2 linked regions of the Homo sapiens genome follow. Changing the gene in region 2 together with the main gene of any one other region gives a genetic interaction. Each region holds a gene or a part of one and is shown on either strand. Other genes may lie near its edges.

Region 1 (3,500 bases), on a different chromosome or scaffold from region 2:
TATCTGTGGCTCACTGCAGCCTTGACCTCCTGGGCTCAAGCAATCCTCCCCCTAAGCCTCCCCTCCCAAGTATCTGAGACCACAGGCACACACCACCACACCTAGCTAATTTTTTTTATTTTTTGTAGAGACAGGGTCTTGCTATGCTGCCCAGGATAGTCTTGAACTCCTACCCCGGCTTCACAAAGTGCTGGGATTACAAACATGAGCACTGTGCCTGGCCCAACTCTAATCAAAGTGCCTTTCTCCGATAATCCCTTCCAGCCCGGACTGAGGTGTGGTTGTTCTACATTTGTTTCCAGAAGGTACTCCAATAATGACAGTGTCACCCTAGATTGATTTTTTTTTTTTTTTAGTTTTTGAGACAGGGTCTCACTCTGGCACCCAGGCCACAGTGCAGCGAAGCCATCATGGCTCACTGTAGCCTCAACCTCCAGGGCTCTAGCAATCCTCCTGCCTCCACCTCTGCTTCCCAGGCACACCAACAATGCTCAGCTATTTTTTTTTTTTTATAGCGACAGGATCTCCCTATGTTGCCCAGGCTGGTCTAAAACTTCTGGCCTCAAGTGATCCTCCTGTCTCAGCCTCCCAAGGTGTTGAGATTACTACAGGCATGAGCCACTGCACCTGGCCTCTAATTTAAAAAAAAAAAAAATTAGGCCAGGTGCAGTGGCTCATGCCTGTAATCCCAGTACTTTGGGAGGCCGAGACAGATGGATCATTTGAGGTCAGGAGTTCAAGACCAGCCTGACCAACATGGTGAAACTCCATCTCTACTAAAAAAATACAAAAATTAGCCCAGGCGTGGTAGTGCACACCTGTAATCCCAGCTACTCAAGAGGTTCAGACAGGAGATTCACTTGAACCTGGGAGGTGGAGGTTGCAGTGAGCCAAGGTCACACCACTTCACTCCAGCCTGGGTGACAGAGCGAGACTTCATCTCAAAAAAAAAAAAAAAAAAAAAAAAAAAAATTGGCCAGGAACAGTGACTCACACCTGTAATCCCAGAACTTTGGGAGGCCAACACAGGTGAATCACTTGAGGTCAGTTCAAGACCAGCCTGGCCAACATGGTGAAACCCTGTCTCTACTAAAAATACAAAAAATTAGCCTGGCATGGTGGTCATGCCTGGAATCCCAGCTACTTGGGAGGCTGAGGCAGGAGAATCACTTGAACCCAGGAGGCAGAGGCTGCAGTGAGCTGAGATCGTGCTATTGCACTCCAACCTGGGCAATAAGACCAAAACTCTGTCTCAAAAAAAAAAAAATATTACTGAGATGTAATTTCCATACCATTAAATTCACTTCAAGTGAACAATTCAATGATTTTTAGTAAATTTAGTTATGCAACCATCACCAGAATCAAATTTTAAAACATTTTCATCATTCCAAAAAGATGTCATGTCCATTTGCAGTCCCAAGAACTTTTTTTTTCACCCATCCACAGCCAGCCTGAGAGAAACAGCACTCCTTATCTCCCCTTTCCAGCGTGCAGACTTTTTTCCCCTAGTCAGCTTGTTCAATGAAGGTGCAGCCCAGGTCCAGACTTTATAAACAATGTCTCAGTTCCAAAACTACTCTCAGGAAAGCCCAAGGACTCATCTGCCTTCCCCAGTACCTGCTTAAATTTAAGGCCCTGGCTTCTCAAGATGATGAATCCACCCAATCTACAGGCAGCTCCAGAGTCAATTTACCACTCTGATTTTCAGTCCTCACTTGATGGCCAGGCACAGTGGCCCATGCCTGTAATCCCACCACTTTGGGAGGCCAAGGTGGGCGGTTCACCTGAGGCGAGGAGTTTGAGACCAGCCTGGCCAACACGGTGAAACCTCATCTCTACTAAAAATACAAAAATTAGCCGGGCATGGTGGCCCACATCTGTAGTCCCAGCTACTTGGGAGGCTGAGGCAGGGGAATCGCTTGAACCTGGGAGGTAGAGGTTGCAGTGAGCAGAGATCGTGCCACTGCACTCCAGCCTGGGCGACAGAGCAAGACTCTGTATTTAAAAAAAAAAAAAGATTTTCAGTCCTCACTTGGTCTCTAAAACTTAAGAATTTCACATTTTCTTTCAAGCTTAACTTTGCACTTAAAAATTTTTTTTGTTTCTATTTTCTCTCTCCTTTCTAGACTTTGGTAGCAGAGGGTTTTCAGATTATGTCAATCTACCACCCGGTTGAAACTTTTTTTTTTTCCTGAGACGGAGTCTCGCTGTCTGTCGCCCAGGCTGGAGTGCAGTGGCAAGATCTCGGCTCACTGCAAGCTCTGCCTCCTGGGTTCACGCCATTCTCCTGCCTCAGCCCCCCAAGTAGCTGTGACTATAGGAGCCTGCCACCGCGCCCAGCTAATTTTTTGTATTTTTAGTAGAGACGGGGTTTCACCGTGTTAGCCAGGATGGTCTCGATCTCCTGACCTTGTAATCCACCCGCCTCGGCCTCCCAAAGTGCTGGAATTACAGGCATGAGCCACCGCGCCTGGCCTGAAACTCTGACTCACTCCAACTGGGTAGTTTTCTTTATCTCTACACTGAAACTGCCTTTACCAATGACGCCAACCTTGCCAAATTCAATGGTCAATTCTCCATCTTCATCTTACAATTTGGCAGCATCTGACACAACTGATTACTCTCTCACCTTCTTGAAATACTCTCTTCACCTGACTTCAGGACACCACACTCTCCCGGCTTATCTCCCACCTCACTACTGCTCTTTCTCATTGTCTTTTGTTTTTTTTTTGTTTGTTTGAGATGGGGTCTTACTCTGTCATTCAGGTTGGAGTGCAGCGGTGCGATTTCGGCTCACTGCAACCTCCGCCTCTTGGTTTCAAGCCATCCTCCCACCTCAGCCTCCCAAGAAGCTGGGACCACAGGCATGTGCCACCACACCCGGCTAATTTTAGTATTTTGGTAGAGACAGGGTTTCACCATGTTGCCCAGGCTTGTCTCGAACTCCTGAGCTCAAGCAATCTGCCTGCCTCAGCCTCCCAAAGTGCTGGGATTACAGGAGTGAGGCACTGCACCTGGCCCCTCATTGTCTTTTAATGGCGGCTCCTCTTTACTTTTAAATGTTGCTAAGCTCCAAGTCTCAGTCCTCAATTCCATTCTTTAATCTCAATACTCACTTTTTAAATGATTTCATCTAGTCCCACGGCTTTAAATATCTATAGACTGAGGACTCCCAAATTTTTATCTCCAGTCCTAGCATCAGTCTTGAGCTGCAGATTTGTATATGCACCTGCCTACCTAACATCTCTACTTGAATAGAGTTTATATGAGGGACTTGAGCCTTTGTGGATTTTGGTATCTGTTGGTCAGGGGAGGTCCTGGAACCATTCCCCCATGGATACTGAGGAATGACTGTAGTGAGATTTGGGATACATCTTGAAGGTGGAATCAATAGAATTGGATGTGGGTTATACGGCATCATATTTGCATATAACCTCCCATATACTTTTTTTTTCCTGAGACGAAGTCTCACTCTGTCGCCCAGGATGGAGTGCAGTGGC
Region 2 (3,500 bases):
GTAAGGGTGAATGTGGGTTTAAAAAAAGAAATACTCTCTCAACATCAAAAGAAAAGGACATAGGAATAGATGGTTTAATACTTTGTGAAAAGGAAATACATACACCTTTCCACAGCTAATTTAAAAGAGGAAGAATAAATGTAAAGTTGACAATAATACAGATAAGAAAGTAATAGGCTGGGTGTGGTGGCTCATGCCTGTAATCCTAACCCTTTGGAAGGCTGAGGCCAGAGGATTGCTTGAAGCTATGAGTTCTAGACCAACCTGGGCAACTTGGCATTTTTTTTATTTAGCTGGGCATGGTGGTACACTCCTGCATTCCTAGCTCCTTGGGAGAGAGGCAGGAAAATCGCTTGAGTCCACAAGTTCAAGGCTGCAGTGAGCCATGATTGCACCACTGTACTCCAGCCTGGTGACAGAGAGAGACCTTGTATTTTAAACAAAAAAAAAAAAAAAAAAAAAAAGAAGAAGAAGAAGAAGAAGGTAATAGCTTGGGATAGCATCTGAATTTCTTAATTAGGAATGAAAAGTTTGCTTTTATATTCTTAGGTTGGTTACACACAGAAAAGTTCATAGCCTCTTTCATCCTCACTGAGGAAAACAATTTTCCATTCTTTTCTAGATGTTTTAGTTCATTTTGAAAATTAGTTTAGAATGGTATGTCTCTTATTATTCTAAACTCTTATCTTTGATAATTTTAGAGAAAAGAGACAGGATACTTAAGGTTCTGGTTTCTGTTGCACTTTTCAGTTAATTGATACATGTTCAATTTTATAAGTAATATATTACATTCTATTATAAAGAACCTCCTTGAACCCAGAAGTTAGAAGTTACAGTGAGCTATGATCATACCACTGTACTCCAGCCTGGGTGACAGAGCAAGACCCTGTCTCTTAAAATTATTTAAAAAAAAAAAAAGGGACCCCTGCCTTTCGGGGTCCAATTACTATAAAGAACCTCAAGATTTTCGATATCAACTGAAAAAAATGAAGGAAAAATAAATCATTGCAGTATACGTTCTTTTTATTTGTATTGAAATCGTTAACATGTTCTGTTGTTGATCTTTGGAGGGTACATCATCCAGTTCCTATCCAAAGGAACAATCACAGCCATGGTTTTTCTTTTAAAAGATGCTAGAGAATTTTCTCCGTCTCTGTCTCCACCCCTCTCAGTGTGTCTACGTTTGGGTCAAGAGCATATTTGCAACCAATGGATACACGCCAGTACTTATACTGCCTAAAGCCAAAGAATGAATTTGCAGAAAAAGCAGGCATCATTAAGGGAGTAACAGTAATTGGAAAATTGGATATAGTATGGAAAACAAATCTAGGTGAAAGGGGAAGGTTACAGACCAGCCAACTTCAAAGAATGGTGAGTCTGGAAAAAACTTCGCTGGGGTTTTGGTGTGTGAAAGACAGGTAGTTAGAACAACTTAATTTTTTCTACATCCAGCAGTAAAAAATTGGAGCACTATAAAAGGCATTACTACTACTGGAGCAGAAAAGATTAATAGTGTCACTGATAGGTAGGTCGAAGACTGGTGTTGCCATGAATGAAAAATGGTCAAATGTTAATTTATCCTTAATACACGTGTTCTTTATCACACAGAAATTAAAATAACTGTTATTAAGTGTCTCTCCTTTGGTAACACATGCTCACTCTTCTTCTGATTTCCAAACACATTAAGGTTTTCTATTTTGCAATGTCCTGAAACTCTTGGACTTACTTCATTCACCTACTCAGTTCCTACCATTTTTAAGATGTTAAAAATCTGAGGCATCTCCTCAGAAGGTGAGTTCTACTAAAGTTATCTTATAAGCATTGGTTGCATATTTTACCTAATTTCTTCTCTGAGAGTAGGGATAGCTACCAGGCTTCTTTTTCTTATGCTTGTAAGAATATACGACAGGATTCTCCTCCCTTTATGCTGAATATTACCTGTTTTGACATATTCCAAATTTTACTTTTCTTTCCACTGTTTGAGGCAATAATTTTTAAAAAATGATGATGATGATTCCTGGGCCCACTTAAATATAGCCGTTAGTTATTTTTCTGCCATGGCCTGTTCCAAGCCTTCGTGTTGTTATAATCCATCCTCATCTGTGCGTCTTGTAAAAAGTCATGATTTTCTTCCTGGCTCCTTTCAACATCATCCCCCTCTTTCTTTAGAAAATAACTTTACCTATTTAGAGTTACACACATAGAAGCTACAGCATCTGGAAAGTGTCCCTTCAACTCCCTGAAATTTCTTTACTGACTACTTACCTGTGAGATTCATCTTAACTCTACTGAACATGGAATAATTATATAACAAAAACAGTCCAGGTCTGCCAGGCTATTCCACAGGCAGTAGCTGCAAAAGAATTTAAAATGAGAGACAAGTAAAGTGAATCAGAAGTATTTTCTTAGAACATCAGCTTGGAAACCCAACAGCTGTTGAGTAAATGTGCTGCTGTGGTGCCTTCATTAAAATGGAAAGGTTTTGTGATAGATATACATTAACTGTGTTGCTTGTTTTCTTAGGCTCCAGGTTATGGAGATGTTAGGTTGTCTTTGGAGGCAATACCAGATACCGTAAACCTTGAAGAACCTTTTCATATTACCTGTAAAATAACAAACTGCAGGTAATGCCACTGTTTGTAGATGGATGTCCTTTCTACCTCACCTGCCTAGAAGATAATTTTAAAATCTTTTTGTTACTATCTCCTTTTAAGTTTTCCTCTTGACATACAGCCTTCTCTGATGTTGATATTGAGTACTGTAAAATTCTTCATCTGGTAGCAGTATAATTACATATTTTTAAGGGCCTATTGTATTATGCATCTTCTGTATTTTATTTCATTCATTTGTCACACCCTATGAGGTAGGTATTCATTGTTTATACTTCCTTCACCAAAACATGAACTAATAGGTTCTTATGTATTAATATATTATGAATTGAAGTAGCAAGATTTTTTGAGGCATGCTTGTACTTGAGCTGTATCTTGAGTATTAAGAAACCAAACATTGCTTATGGATTTAATGTAAGGGGAGATCATTGATTCGAAAACTGGGTTTTGACAGTAAAGAGAGAGCATAATCTGAACTGTCAGGAAGCAAAGAGCACAGGGCTTTGAAACCAGAAAAAAATAGAATTAAGTTCCAGTCCTATGCCCTCTGCTCCTACTTGTATTACCACTTGGTTTGTATTATTATTTGGGGTATTTTTATAATATTGCAGTGATGAATCCTAGTCCTCTTAGTGTGAATGTATAATCCTTTTAATTCCATATTTATTCTTTTTGGTATTAGAAAGATAGGAAATATTTATCCTTCAAAATTACAGAAATACCCACTTCCTCTATGAAGCTACCTAGACTTTCCAAAGCACAGGTATTCATGCCTTCTCCATCATAGAAAATTTTAACTTAGTTTTTTAGTGACACTCATATATTGTGTATTTAGTGACACTCATATATTACTGTAAGTATTAGTCTCTTTCTCACTGGACTGGAATTATT

What was found. A genetic interaction does not mean that the proteins touch.
Region 1: changes in TRAPPC13 (region 2) and SEC24C together harm fitness less than expected from each alone (positive genetic interaction), as found in Homo sapiens cells (one large-scale study listed by BioGRID).

The regions. Positions count from the first base shown.
Region 1 is NC_000010.11:73,754,372-73,757,871, reverse strand, and holds part of SEC24C (protein transport protein Sec24C), read right to left. Parts: intron 1-3,500. UniProt on the Homo sapiens protein: Component of the coat protein complex II (COPII) which promotes the formation of transport vesicles from the endoplasmic reticulum (ER).
Region 2 is NC_000005.10:65,659,527-65,663,026, forward strand, and holds part of TRAPPC13 (trafficking protein particle complex subunit 13), read left to right. Parts: intron 1-1,172; coding exon 1,173-1,371; intron 1,372-2,523; coding exon 2,524-2,624; intron 2,625-3,500.